Linked DNA regions of Homo sapiens: all the other regions are linked to region 2. Evidence: fine-mapped expression QTL. A gene starts in region 2. Each other region holds a variant in brackets. All regions are shown on one strand. Distances are between the middles of the regions.

What was found. PIP is the estimated chance that this variant, and not a neighbour inherited with it, causes the effect.
Region 1: its variant is fine-mapped to the expression of MPDZ in pancreas (GTEx, PIP 0.91).
Region 3: its variant is fine-mapped to the expression of MPDZ in fibroblasts (GTEx, PIP above 0.99). The same link has a PIP of 0.9 or more in atrial appendage, gastroesophageal junction, ovary, subcutaneous fat, sun-exposed skin and tibial artery.

The regions. Positions count from the first base shown.
Region 1 is chr9:13,316,029-13,321,258 of GRCh38, reverse strand. No RefSeq gene overlaps it. Among named protein-coding and RNA genes, the nearest start is that of MPDZ, 39 kb to the right of the region's middle. The variant C/T (reference allele first, on the strand shown) is at 3,252.
Region 2 is chr9:13,277,066-13,282,295 of GRCh38, reverse strand. It overlaps MPDZ (multiple PDZ domain crumbs cell polarity complex component), which reads left to right and starts at 2,604. Exons shown (of 47, transcript NM_001378778.1): 1 at 2,604-2,896. RefSeq lists enhancers at 2,981-3,696, 3,697-4,412, 4,413-5,128.
Region 3 is chr9:13,254,034-13,259,263 of GRCh38, reverse strand. The region is part of intron 1 of MPDZ (multiple PDZ domain crumbs cell polarity complex component); the gene reads left to right. Among named protein-coding and RNA genes, the nearest start is that of MPDZ, 23 kb to the left of the region's middle. The variant C/T (reference allele first, on the strand shown) is at 2,232.

The DNA of each region.
Region 1 (5,230 bases), 39 kb before region 2:
TTCTAGATTGATGGTAGGTAGTAAGGGATTTTCCAATTCCCAGAAATGTAAGTGTAGTGATAATTTCTGTGGTAGGTTAAAAGAGGCCACAAATTTTTTGCTAATCTTTTCATTAAGAAGCAATGAGTCTAATTCCCCTCCCCTTGAATCTGGCTGGCCTTAATGACTTCCTTGGCCAATACAATATAACAAAAGAGATATTCTGGATCTTCTGTGCCTAAGGTCAGAGCCTTGAATTTTCAGCCCAGATCTCTTGGAACATTTCCTCTAGAAGCCCTGGCCAGTCATATACCTCCAACTACCCTGAGATCATCATCCTAGAGATGCCATGTATAGAGGCTATGGTCAGCAGTCCTAGCTGAACTCAGCCTTCCAGCTATCCTCTGACAAGCAACAGACATGCAAGCAAAGCCACCTTGGACCCTCCAGACTGGTCTACTCATTAGCTCAGTTCCTCAGAGTGACTTATGTTCATGCCACATGAAACAGAATAATCACCTAGACCAATACAAATTTCTGACCTACAAAATCATGAGATATTAAAAAGTGGCCATTGTTTAAGCCATTTAAAATTTGAATGGTTTGTTATGCAGCAATCGATAATTGGGACTTTCTTCCCTGTCCGCAACTACTTGGTGGTTTTATTATTTAAGCATTTCAATCTCAATTTTATGTCAGTAACACTGATATAGTAGATATTAAGAGAATTCTGCTTTCTACAGAATGAATTGGAATGGAGAGATATTTGTTCATCAGGTGACATAGTAATAAAGAATGTCAGTTGGCCATTTTATTAAGTGAATTTACAGATTCAGTTCAACTGGTAAAATATCTCCTGGCAGAAGAAATAGATTCTTCATAGAAGGAAGGCACTACCCTTGCTCAGCTTTATTTATAAAGAATAAAGTACTAAAACGTTTTTCCAGATTTGGGGCACAGAGGCAAAGGAGCAGAGGGAGTCAGGAAGTTCAAAGCACATGAGGAAATTTATGGGTTTATCAGATAACAAAATTCCTGATTTCTTCAAGTCCTTTGTTTTTTGTTTTGGGTTCTTTTTTCCCCCTAAGAAAGCAATGTATTTCTTTCTCCTCCTATCATCACTATTTCATACTTGAATATGTGAGATAAAATCTTGCTTCCTAAGCTGAAGATAAGAAGAAAAGTGAAGAGGTGTGCTGGAACATGAGCTATCATCTCTATCAGAATTTGAAAGATGAGTTCATTAGACTCCTTACTGAAGGAATACAGCTTATTGCTAAGATCATAGTCCTTCTGAGTAGTGATGCCCAAACCAAACTATGCATCAAAATCACATGGGAAGTTTTTCAAAATATTTCTGCAAATTCTGTTGTGGGATCTGAGAATATGTGTATATGTATTGGACAAGATTCTTTTAGTGTAAAAACAAAAATCAAAACAAAATAAACCAAAAAAACCCCAGAAAAATCAACTCAAATTGACTTTAGCAAAAAAGAGAATTTATTAATTCACAGAATTGAAGAGTCTATTCTTTTAGATGTTTCTATTGGGATATTGGTATGGTTTGGCTGTGTCCCCACCCAAATCTCATCTTGAATTGTAGCTCCCATAATCCCATGTTGTGGGAGGGACCCAGTGGGAGGTAACTGAATCAAGGGGGCGGGTTTTACCCATGCTGTTCTCCTGATAGTGAATAAGTCTCATGAGATCTGACGGTTTTATAAAGGGCAGTTCCCCTACACATGCCCTCTTGCCTGCCACCATGTAAGAGGTGCCTTGCTCTTCCTTTGCCTCCTGTCATGATTGTGAGGCTTCCCCAACCATATGGAACTGTGAGCCCATTAAACTTCTTTCCTTTATAAATTACCCAGTCTCGAATATGTCTTTATTAGCAGCATGAGAATGAACTAATACAGATATACTTTCTATTTCTAAATAAAATGAGTAGTTTCAATTCTTAATATTTCAGTTACAGGACTTATCTATTTACCTCCCACTAGAGGAGATGAGGGTTTAGTTTTTCACCAATTCTTATTCCATGCATCCCATTCTAAACTGCTCCCCTTCCACATTTCCTCACCCATACTTTTCAATATAGTTCAATATTCAGGGTTATATTTTTACAGCTATGTAAATGTCATTTAAATATGAACCATAAAATTACTCATTTTAACTCAAACGTAAACGCTCTCTTAGAAATGTTAATTTTCTCCAGTTTGTTCAAATATATTAAGTCTTCAATGAATTTCATTTTTTTCGTCTGTACTGTTTGCCCTCGAAGGCAGTTATTATCTTGTGATATTCCTTTTTCTGTCTTTTCTAATCAATCTCTTGCTTCCTGGCTTGCATGCATTGTGCTTTCTTGATTTACTCCCTTATTTTGGTAAATAAAAGATAATATTTTGAGACTCTGCACACCTGAAAAATATTGTTACATACCCTTAGTTGTGATAGGTAGCTAATTGAGTTTAAAGTTATAAATTGGAAATCTTATTCCCTTGGAATTTGAAAACAATCTCCTTTGTCTTCTAACTCCCAGTATTTCTATTACTAAGTCCAGTGAAATTGTGATTCTTGATCTTTTAAATGAAACTGTGTTTTCTCTTTAGTAGCATATAGGCTCTTATCTTTTATCCCAAATGTTTGAAATTTCATAATTATGTGGCTTGGTTTAGATCATTTTTACCCATTTTGCTATCAGGGTGACTTTGTAATCTGAAAACTCATGACCTTTATTACTGGGAAATTTCCTAACATTATTTACACAGTAATTTATCTTTCTTGATTTTCTTCATCCTCTATCTTTGCATCTCTGATTATTGAAAATTTGGACTTCCCAGACTGATCCTCTTATTTTCTTTTCTCCATTATTTTTCCTCTTGTGCTTTGTTTCCTGAAATATTTCAACTTAATATTTAACTAAACGACAACTGCTACCAGCTGTCATATATGGAAAAAGGTCATATCTTGGATATTTTAGCCTTGGCTGAGCTCTCAGTTGAATACAGCCACCTCACTGACTCTGGCTGATGCCGCAGGAGCAGAAGAATCGCCATGCTGAGCCCAGCTAACCTTTAAAAATATGAAAAACAACACATCAATACATATTGTATTGACTCACTAAGCTCTAGGGTAATAGATTAACTGATGTAGGGGGTATGATATATCCTCACTTCAGGACCTTAGGCTTAGCCATGTGACATGCTTTAACCAATGAAATGTTAACAGAAGTGATACCTGTCACGTTTGAGCAAACGCTTTAAGAATCAGTA[C/T]ATGGTATAACATGTGCTCTTCCTACATGCAAAAAGCCAGCAACGTTCCATATAGAGGCTATTGCCAAGAAGCCTTAGTCTCAAACTGAAACTGACTGAGCCAGAACATTGCATTTTTCACAGCAGCATAACCTTTCCTGCCTGATACAGACACTAAATAGCCAATAGGAAACTTATGCACATGGACAAGTGTGGGATTCACATGTGGGGTGATCTGGCAGGTGCTATCCAGCTCCCCCTTCAGAACTGAAGAACTTATTTCACCAGCTTCTAGGAGTATTGCCACTGACAGTCCTTAGCTGTTTGGCAGCTCTGGAAATTGCTCTCAACTAAAGAAAACTTCCTCACCAAAGTCACACTCTTTTCTTGGGGGCAACCTGCATCCAGTGACTGGTCAGCATGAAGGTATAAAAGCCCACCATGCTTGTCATATTGCAGGACAACTTTGAAAAACCATTATTATTTCAGAACTCCCCATGGGATCAGCTTGAGGTGTGACCGCAGTCCAGTTTACCTTTCCTCAATCCTACTTCCTTTCCTTTCCTTCCTTCCGTGAGTGTGGTTCCCATGAGTGCTCTCTAATTAACTTCCTGCAAGCTAATCTCTGTTTCAGAGTTTATTTCCTGAGGAACCTCACCTGCAATCACTTTTTCTTCTTTTTTTGTTGGTTTTGGTTTTGGTTTGGGGGAACATCTAATAGCAATCTCTTTAGGAATTTTACCTTGGATTGACTGGATTCTTCCATAAATAATTTTCTAATATTATGCTTAAGAAAACAGGTCAGAGAATAGATCAGGTTTAAGATAAAAATAGGTCTTACAATGCTTAAGAGGATAGGTCATGCTCTGGGAACTGAATTAAGGAGAAGACTGTTGGATATTAACAACTAATTATCCAGTCTACATTTTAATGTTGCTGTTTTCAGTACAGTATCCTGGCCCTCAACTGTGCCCAATATTCTCCGGGCCAAAGACGTTTGGTATCACAAAGAATAACCTCCCAGTGTTCTGCCATGTTAGGAAAGAGTTCACAATCTAGCTTTGTGGAATGGGTTACGGAGTCTTGGAGCCTGCTTCTGCTTAAATATACTTGCATTCAGGCTGGGCGCAGTGGCTAATGCCTGTAATCCCAGCCCTTTGGGAGGCTGAGGCATGGTGGCATGAGCCTGTAATCCCAGCTACTTGGGAGGCTGAGGCAGGAGAATCGCTTGAACCCAGGCAGAGGTTGCAGTGAGCCAAGATGGTGCCACTGCACTCCAGCCTGGGTGACAGAGCAAGACTCTGTCAAAAATAATACACACACACACACACACACACACACACACACACACTTGCAGTCAATTCTACTCCTTTTGTACTACTCCTACTCCCATTTCTAGAAGTTCCTGGTGTTACCAATTTCCAAGCCTGCAACACAAATCAAGTGGTTTTGCAGCTTTCCATCTCTAATTTTCAGAATGTTGTTATTGTAGTCTCCTCTCCCAATATTTTTACCCTTATTTATGCCTTTTGAAAATATGACCATATTCATTTACTCTCATTTTAGCAAGGAGTGAAGTAAGGAGTAAAGGGAGATGTGCATGCTTTATTGAACTATCTTTAATTAGAAGCACTAAATAGTTATCCTTCTATATATGCATTATAGTTAGTGACTCAAATTCTCCTTTAAATATTTCTATGGAAATCTTTAAATCTTTATTAGAAATACATCTAAATTTTTTTTTTTTTTTTTTTTTTTTTTAGACAGAGTCTTGCTCTGTTGCCCAGGCTGAAGTGCAATGGCGTGATCTTGGCTCACTGCAAACTCTGCCTCCTGGGTTCAAGCGATTCTCCTGCCTCAGCCTCCTGAGTAGCTGGGATTACAGGCATGCGCCATCACGCCTGGCTAATTTTTGTATTTTTAGTAGAGACAGGGTTTCACCATGTTGGTCAGGCTGGTCTTGAATATGACCTCGTGATCTACCCGCCTCGGCCTCCCAA
Region 2 (5,230 bases):
TTTCCCTTATAAAAGTCCTCTGAATATGACTCAAATTTGAGAAAAACAAATTATTGTGGAGAATGCCTCACTGAGGATATAGGTGGAATGACCCCAGAGCCTGTATTAACATGAAATAGAAAGCATTATTAATCTATTTACGTATGGGGTTTCAAGCCATCCCATAGAGTAGAGCACCTCTACTCTATCTGCTTTACACTTTGTCTTTCTCTGCAAGATTTTATTTCAACTTTAATGTTTTTAACTTTTATTTTAGGTATTTTTTTTTAAACTAGTGCACTATATCCCCGGTGGATTTCTAGAAAATCTTAGGTTTTCTGGATTAGAACAAGTTAAAGAGAATAGAGCAATAGCTATACGGATTAACTTCAAAAGGAGAAGCTTCAGGGTGGAATTATCCCCAAACTCTGGATAATTTTATGCAAGGACTAATCTAAACCAGATGCCTTTTTATCCTCTGATATACTGCTGTTTAAAGAGGGCATGTGGGCTTTGCTTCGCTAAAGGAGACTAGAACAATAGCACCTTTTAAACCAAGGTAAAATTATTTGTTTTAATCTCATTTATCCACAATAAACCAGGGAATTAAATTTCTAAAACTTTCCTCTAATTCAGTTTTATGGGCTCTTTCCCTATGGTTCAATATAAAAAATGCCATTTAAAATTTTAGGACTCAAAGAATTCCTTCAGTAGCTAGTTATGAAATTCTTTTCCTCCTACACTACCCCAGCAGCTAACATTTCATGCACGTACTTCCTTTGTATTTGAGAATGACCAGATTTGAAAACTGACAAGTAGAAGTGCTATTCAAACAGGAGGATCCCTTTGGAATTTCTAAGCAATAAGAAAATCCTTTCCAAATGGGATGCCTTGAGGTGACTCTATGACAAGAACACAAAAGTTATATGGAGAAATTATTCATTCTTGCAGTCGTATATTCATCCTATTTCATATGAGTGCCAACCAAGTGTGAAGTTTTTACTAGGCTCTGAGGATAAAATGGTGACTTAGCCCCTGTTCTCATGGAGTTTATGGTTGAAGAGGGAAGAGACATTGCATAATTACAAAATCAAATGCATATTTACAAAGTAGGAAAAATATTATGAAGCAAAAGCATAGGGTACCATAAGAATGCATCACAATGGGTTTATCGTAGTTTGTGGGAATCATGTAGCATCTATGGCAGTTCCATTCACTGGGACACTGAACAAGATGACCAGGCTTGAGCAGAAGTATCACGGCTGCATTTTTTTTTGCAATCTAGGTTTGAGACAAGCAAACAGGGAAGCCAAATAAACACTTGAATATATGGATAAATCTGAAGGTATAAATGTAAGATTCTGTAGGTACGAGATCATAAGCTAGAAGTGAAAATGTATTTAGAGGTAAGAGTTAAAAGGAAAAGAGGGCCCGTAACTGATTTTTAAGGAATTCCAGCATCTAAAGATTGGGGGAGAGGAGGCAAAGAAGACTGAAGAGTGGCCTGGGGACAGGGGCAGATCTACCTGGAAATTGATGTAGCTTAACGTTCCGGGTCCTTCTCTTGCCTGGGAGCAACCCTAGCAATGTGTTTACATGGGCATTTATTTTTTGAATTTTTCTAAAGAAAGATTTTTTTTTTTTTTTTGGTTAAAGCAGAGCTCCCAATTGTACAAGCTTCAGAGCCCATACATCCGCCCTTGACTAAGCGGAAGAAGCAAAACCAAGAGTGTGATTGCATGGAATTACAAGAGGGGTGGGGTGGGGAGGACTCTAGGAAGAGAGAGGTCAACAGCTGTGAATGTGTTTGAAAGTCCAAGGAATATGAGAAAAAAGTATTTTTATTCAGAATATTAAAAGAAATTCTTTTAAATGTTCTAAATTGGACTTCTGAGTATCCTTTGGTCCTATAATCTAATATCAGAGGGATATTTTGAAAAAGAGTTTCTTATGCAGAAAAAAATTCGTGGGACTTCCAAATTGAGGATAACAGAAAGAAAATCTTAAGTGGCACAAAATAGAAATGAATATCTGTTCTTCCTGGGGCCATGCAACTCTAATAACTTTTCCATGTTTACTGTTTTTGCTTTTTAATTGGATCATCAGACTAAGAATGCACCCTGATGTGCGAAAAGTTACTTAGAAAGTGAGAGGACTGCCCCCACCCTTCTGATTAAAGCGCTTCTCATAAGCATCCTATGCCATTCAGTAAGCTACCCATGCAGAAAGCATCCACAGGGCAGTGCACATAAGGAAAATCTGAGGAGCTAGAAACAGGCTATCAGTTTCCGCAGGTTGACAAAATCGGCAGATAAAAATACAAGACTGCCATTAAATTTGAATTTCCGATAAACAACGAAGAACTTTTTAGCATAAGTACGTCCCAAATATTGCATGGGATATACTTGTACTAAAATTATTCCTTTTTTTTTTTATTTGAAATTCCCATTTAACAGAGCAGCCTATATTTTATCTGACCACCTCACAAGTCCACTACCCACACCCCAGGTCGAGCGGCCCAGGAGCGAGTTTAAAACCCCGCACAGGCCTGCTCGGCCGCGTCCCCTGATTGGCCAAGGCGCGCCCGCCGCCCCGCCGGTCGCAGGCGTCACGGCAGCCCCAGCAGCCTGGGCCCCGCCACCGCCTCCGCGGCAGCCCCGGTCGGCGCAAGTGCGGCGCGCGCTGGGGGAGGGGGCGCGGCGGAGCGCTAGGCTGGCGTCGGGCCACCGCGGGATTAAGTTTCTCAGTCACGCGTGAGTGTCTGTGCGTTTTGATCCGAAGCTCCTCGCCGGGTCGTTACTTCAGAAGAGAAGACAGTGAGCGTGGGCGAGGCGAGGCATCCAGAGGCCCCGGCGACCCCTGCTCCCCAGTCCTCCGCCCCCTCGCGTCGCGGCCCTGGGCGGGCGCCGCGAGCCGGGTAAGCGGCGCTTGAGCCCCGGCCCAGAGGCCGAGGCGCGCCCCCGCGCCCTGCGCGCGCGCCGGCGGGGAAGGTGCGCGGGCGCCCTGGGCTCGGCGCTTGGGGGTGGGGGTGGGGGCGGGGATGGGGGTGGGGGTGGGGGTGGGGGTAGGGGTGGCGGCGGGCCGTGGGGCGGTGGGGCGGTGCGCTTGCCCCACCCCGCGCGGCCCGGCGCTTCGCGGAAGCCGCTGCTGTGGCTTTTTTAAAAGGATGGGGTCTAGAAGTTTCCTTTGCTACTCGCAAGTCTCCACTCCCCCCAGCCCCGCGGTGGATAATCCTAGACCTTTCAGCACCCCCGCCACCCCTTTCTTTTGCTCTCGCTGACTAAGAGGTTTAAAAGTTTTTCCTTTTCCTTGACCCAGAGGGGCACAGTCTTGGTGTCGGGGGGCTGGGGGTGGGGTGTTAGCCTGGGGGCCCGGAGCGCAGACCAGGCCTCCAGGGCGCGGGAGCCTGTTGCTCTCCCCTGCAGGGGCCGCTCCCGGACGCCCCATCCGCCGTTACGTGGTCCCGGGATGTGCGGGTTGCGGTAGAGAGTGGGCAGCAATGCTCCTGGTCCTGCGTTCTCGCCTTAGCCGCGGGGACCCCGAGGCGAGCCGCTAATTGGTACCGGTGCCCCGTCCCTCACCCCTGGCACCGGCGCCCTTTTAACCGCCGCTCCCGTTGGTGGGAGCACGTTGGTCTTGTCTCTCCCTTAGTCTCCTCACCCCCCGCGCTGATGGGCGTCTTTGTCTGCGATTTGGCAGCCCCAGGATGCCGGATGTTACCAGGGAAGCGATGTTTGGGAGACGCTTTGTGTCTTGCGGAGTTGCGCGTTTGTTGGGTGGTGATGGTGTACATTTTTGTTTGCGTTCTTTGCAGAGGCACAAAGGCTGGGCTATTCTTGCCTGCAGTCACATGGAAATCAAGCGGAGACTGCGGGGGAGGAGAAGTGGCCAGGCGCCGGCGGGAGGTAGAGGCCGCTCCGTAGTCACTGGGGGCGAGTGGGGGCCCCTGGAGACCTCTACTGCGCGGTGCGGCTTTTGAGGTGCTCCGCTTGGGAAGACCCCGGCAATGGGCACTGACTGCCTTTTTGCAGTAGGGGCTGCGGTTGGAGGCTAGTGTTTCCTAGGTATCATCAGATAGATAAGAGGACCATGACTTCACCAGCGTAGAAGGAAAACTTCTCCATGTTCCTTGATGTCATAGAGAAGGAATCTGATAAGTGATCAGACTGCCTCGTCCTGCCTTGTAGACAGTTTGATGTAAACATCCCCTTCGTGTTTCCCTAGAAATTCCTGGTTTAGGTTACCCTTTATAGAATAAATAACACCTTATCTGAAAACTAACGAGGAGGAGGTGATGGTTTCGGGCTTGGGAGTTTTACATGTTGAATTTGGGTATGAGTGATTACAATGAACATCTTGTAATGTTGGAACTATCTAAATTTGTATAATGTATGCCTTAGCACCTGATGGAATTTTGGCAAACAATAGTGTTTTAAAAACCTAGCAAAACTTGGCCAGGCGCAATGGCTCACGCTTGTAATCCCAGCACTTTGGGAGACCGAGGTGGGTGGATCACTTAAGGTCAGGAGTTCAAGACCAGGCTGGCCAACATGGTGAAACCCTGTCTCTACTAAAAATACAAACATTAGCGGAGCGTGATGGCTCGCACCTGTAGTCTCAGATACTAGGGAGGCTGGGGCAGGAGAATCGCTTGAACCCGGGAGGCAGCGGTTGCATTGAGCCGAGATCGCGCCACTGCACTCCGGCCTGGGTGACAGAGCGAGACTCTGACTCAATAAATAAGTAAATAAATAAAAAATAAAAATAAAAGCCTAGCAAAACGTTCCTTGACTTGATCTTCTAATACAATACTAAGCTTTGGATGGAGGCACCTGTACCCTTGTGTGCAATGTAGGCAAAACTAGTTTTGGGTACCCCTTGACTCTCCGTTCTTCTTCCCTATCTCATTTGCCAAAACAAACAAACTAATGAAGATTATTCTCAACATATTACTAATAGATTATGGTGTACCTTATTTCTTACATATGTTCCTTTTTTTTTCCTTTGATCCTTTCTGTGTTTATTCTTTTCACTTACCTTCTCTAGTTCTGGTTTTCTTTGTCCCTTTACCACACTCCTTTTTATTGACTAGGCCTGAAGGTTGTGGCTTGGAAAGGGAGGGATCTTTAGTCAATTTTTAGTGTGCTTCAAAGTCCTATCACCTAGACATTGCTCTGCTTGACCCTTAAAGACATCTTTCCTTTTCAGATGCATTTAAATGTACCTAACTGTGAGGAATAGAGGCTGGTCT
Region 3 (5,230 bases), 23 kb after region 2:
GGCAGGAGAATCGCTTGAACCCAGGAGGCGGAGGCTATATTAGGAAGCCTAATGTATCCAGCGGAGGCTGGATTAGGCAGCTCTCTCATTATATTAAAGTTTCACAGGAAGCGTGAAAGCTAAAATGATTTTGTATGTTGTTATTTCTAAGCTAGCATGTACATAGTAGGATTGTTAGATAAAATAACAGATGTCCAAATTAAGTTTGAATTTCAGATAAAATTGGATTGAGCTGTATTGAGCCTCTGCCTCCTGGGTTCAAGCGATTCTCCTGCCTCGGTCTCCCCAGTAGCTGGGACTACAGCATTTCCATTTCAGGTAATTTATCTGGCAGTTTCATAAAGAAAGAACAAGAATATTAATCAGTATTTGAAGTATGTTGTGAAGTTAATGTTCTTTAATACTTGATTTTCTTTCATTTTGGTGGGCAAAATTGAATTAATCTTATTTTCATTGAATAAATTTAGGAAGATTTATAAATGTCTACTTGAAAATAAAAATTGTATTCATGAATGCTTTTTTGATCAAAGCCTATAAAAATGAGGGAGAAGTTCAGAAGAACAGATGCTAAGAAAAGACTGAGTGATTTCTGTTGGATGACTACATGATTTGGTGGGTACTGTGACATTTCTATACTTTTAGAGCTGTAGTTCAGTAATGTTACCCAAAAGTAGGAATTATGACTGAAAGTATAAATATTGCTGTTATGGACAATTGGATTTATGAAAAACTACTTGCAATTGACTACAACTGTGCCTTCGTCTGCTTACTTCAGGTACTGCTGAGGCAACTATGAATGATAGAAATGGTAAATTTAAATGCAAAAACAGATGCTGAGCAACTCTGACAAGCTGCAAGCCATTGAAACAAGCCCTTTTAATGTCGTATTCCTTTTTCAGTCAGAATTGTTTAAGATAAGTAGAAAATTGTATGCATTTGGGCAGTTTCTCTTCATAGAGTTATTTTTAGCCTAAAACATATTTTCACTTGTTAGTTGCCATATAATCTGCATTGAGCAGAATGGTTTGTGTTATGTTTCAAACGCTGATTCTCTACTTCGTAAAAGCTGTGCCTACATGTTACCATTACAACTTGTTGAAATGTAAAATGATTACTCAGTTAATCAGTTCCTATTTCTAAATAATACCAAATATTCTGTTTTATTTTTATCCCCTTCTGACACTAGTGTTACCAACAAGTTGTTGGAGAATCATATGGTCACAGGTAAAATCTTTGAGATTTATTAAGGATTAGGCAGCTGTCTCATTATATTAAAGTTTTACAGGAAGCGTGAAAGCTAAAATGATTTTATATGTTGTTATTTCTAAGCTAGCATGTACATAGTAGGATTGTTAGATAAAATAACAGATGTCCAAGTTAAGTTTGAATTTCAGATAAAATTGGATTTTAGTATAAATATGTCCCAAGTGTGGCATGGGACATACACTAAAAAATTATTCATTTACCTGAAATTCAAATTTAACTAGCATCCTGTATTTTTAGTTGATAAATCTGGCAACCCTCTATTAAGGTATAAAATTTGATAAACACAAAAGTAATGCAGTGCAAAGTAAGATTATCTCAGTGTCCTTCAGCCCTGCCATATCCCACTATCATTGTCTTTGAAAAAGTTGCAGAATAGTCTATGCTTCTATAAACATACACCAATCGATTTTTACTTACCTAAGCAATTACCCTCCTCTTCTTCTGTACAAAGTGTAGCAACTTAATACCTTGTTCTGTATCTTCTTTTTTATAAATTTGACAATATATTTTCACCGTGTGATTTTTGTGAGACAGTTTGGAAAATATGGGTAGTGTGATAGAGTTTGGGCTTTAAAATAAGGGACAGTAGGGTTCAATTCCAAGTTCTCCCATTTACTAGCTGTTTGACCTTGAGTAAGACCTTGACCTGTCCTTTTCTCTGTTGTGTTATCTGGAATAATGTGTCAGGCACGGGAGGCTATTGTGGGGAGCAAGATGGTCAGAGTCCCCACATGCATGATGGAACGTGTATAAACTGCACTTGCCTAGCACTCTGGTGCCTAACAGATATTGAATTCATTGAGCTGTTATTGGTATGTCTTATGGTTCTGAGAGCTAAGCCTATTGGAACAGATTTTAGGTTCAGTTATAACCAAATAGTGATATGGCCACTAGCAGGATACATGAACAGCAGCTAGAGGGAAACTGGTATTTTTTCTGTACCAGATTTGAATACAGTTGTCCCA[C/T]GCCTTGGAACATGGGGGATACATTCCAAGACCCCCAGTAGATGCCTGAAACCAAACATAGGACCTTACCCCATATATACAGGTCTATGTTGTTTTATTGAATTTTGTCTTATTGTGCTTTGCAGATATTGCATGTTTTTTAAATAAATTGATGGTTTATGGCAACTCTGTGTCAAGCAAGTCTATTGGTGCCATTTTTTTCCAACAGCACATGCTTACTTTGTGTCTGTGTGTCACGTTTTGTTAATTCTTATAATATTTCATGCCCTTTATTATTATTATGTCTGTTACAGTGATCTGTGATCAGTAATCTTTGATGTTACCATTTTAATTATTTTGGGGTGCTACAGCCCTGCACATTTAAGATGGTGAACCTAATAAATGTTGCACATGTTCCAACTGCTCCATCAACGGGCCGTTCGCATTCTTTTTCCCTCTTCTGAGGCCTCTCTATTCCCTGACACAGAACAGTATTGAAATTAGGCTATTTAATAACCCTGCAATAGCCTCTAAGTGTTTAAGTGAAAGGAAGAGTTGCATGCCTCTCACTTTAAACCAAAAGCTAGAAATAATTAAGTTTAGTGAAGAAGGCATGTTGAAAGTAGAGATAGGCTGAAAGCTAAGTGTGTTGTGCCAAACAGCCAAGTTGTGAATGCAAAGGAAAAGGTCTTGAAGGATTAAAATAGCTTCTCCAGTGACTGCATGTAAAGCAAAACAGCCTTATTGTTGATATGGAGAAAGTTTTAGTGGTCTGGATAGAAGATCAAATCAGCCACAACATTCCCTTACGCCAAAGCCTAATACAGAGCAAAACCCTAACTCTCTTCAATTCTGTGAAGGCTGAGAGAGGTGACGGAGCTGCAGAAAAAATGTTGGAAGCTAGCAGAGGTTGGTTCATGAGGTTTAATGAAAGAAGCCATCTGTATGACATAAAAGTGCAAGGTGAAGCAGCAAGTGCTCATGTAGAGCCTTCAGAAAGCTATCCAGAAGATCTAGCTAAGATCATTAATGAAGGTGGCTGCACTAAACAACAGATTTTTAATGTAGATAAAACAGCATTATATTGAAAGAAGAGGCTATCAGGGACTTAAGTAGTTAGGAGAAGTCAATGTCTGGCTTCAAAGCTTTAAAGAGGCTCTCTCATTAAGAGCTAATGCAGATGGTGATGTCAAATTGAAGCCAGTGCTTATTTACCATTTCAAAAATTTTTAGGGCCCTTAAGGGTTATTCTAAATCTGCTATGCCTGCGTTCTCTGTAAATGGAAAAAGAAAGACTGGATAACAGCACATCGGTTTATAGCATGGTTTACTGAATGTTTTAAGCCCGCTGTTGAGACCTACTGCTCAGAAAAAGGTTCTTATAAAATATATTACTGCTCATTGACAAGGCATCTGGTTATCCAAGAGCTCTGATAGAGTTTCATCAAGAGAGATGAATGTTGTTTTCATGTCGCTAACACAACATCCATTCTGCAGCCCCTGGACCACAGAGTAATTTTGACTTTCAAGTCTTATTATTGAAAAAGTACATTTTGTAAAGTTATAGCTTCTGTACTTAATGATTCCTCTGCTACATTAGGGCAAAGTAAATGGAAAACCTTTTGGAAAGGATTCACTACTTTAAATGCCATTAAGATATTTGTAATTCATGGGAGGAAGGCAAAATATCAACATTACCAGGACTTTGGAAGAAGTTGATTCTGAAACTCTTATGAATAACACTGAGGGTTCAAGACTTCAGTGGAAGAAGTCACTGAAGATGCGTTACAAATAGCAAGAGAACTAGAATTTCAAATGGAGTCTGAAGATGTGACTGAATTGCTGCACTTTCATGATAAAGTTTGAATGAATGAGGAGTTGCTTTTTATGGATGAGTAAAGAAAGTGGTTTCTTGAGATGAAATGTATGCCTGGTGAAGATGTGAACATCGTTGAAATGAAAACAAAGGGTTGAGGCTATTACATAACCTTAGTTGATAAAGTAGGAGCAGGATTTGAGAGGTTCTATTGTGGGTAAAATGCTGTCAAACAGCATCACATGCTTCAGAGAAATCTTTCATGAAAGGAAGAATCAATCAATGTGGCAAAGCTCATTGTTGTCTTATTTTCAGAAATTGTTACAGTGACCACAGCCTTCAGCAACCACCACCCGTCAGTCAGCAGCCATCAACACAAAGGCAAGACCCTCCACCAGCTCAAAGACTGTGACTCACCAAAGGCTCAGATGATCACTAGCATTTTTTGACAGTAAACTTTTTTAATAAAGGTGTATAGATTGTTTTCCTAGACATAATGCTACTGCACATTTAATAGACTACAGTGTAGTGTAAACATGACTTTTGTACGCACTGAGAAATGAAAAAATTCATGTGACCCCTTTTGTTGAGAGATTCACTTTATTGCAGTGGTCTGGAACTGATCCTGCAATATCTCAGATATGCTTGTACCATGTTTTTTTTCCATTTTTTATTTTTATAAATACATACCTATGATAAAGTTTAATTTACAAATTAAGCTCAATAAGAGATTAACAACAACTAATAATAAAATTGAACAATTACAACAATATACTGTGTATTCTTAATTCTCTTTGTGTTGAGGGATTTAGTACCTTGAAATGTAAAAGCAATGTTTTTGAATGTACTTTGAATAACTATTTAAAGAGGCTTCTTAAGGGTTTTTATTAAAATCTTGGATTTTAAAAGTGATTTGTTTAAAGATGTATGGACATTAACATTACATAAATGGCGAATATTCCTGATCTTTCTTTGATAGACCGACCGGTGGTTTCTAATATACATAATTCTGACTTCTTCATACCTTGTCTGAACAGTTGGCTAATTTGACTATCTACAACAGTCTATTCCATTTCAGACTTTATTCATTTTGGGTCTCTATTTCTTCCTTTGGTTTCACTTTATGTAGAGCATGGTCTATTTGAACTTGGAAACAGGGAAGTTAAATCTTGCTTTCTAGAGGCAGCATATTGTAGAAATTAAA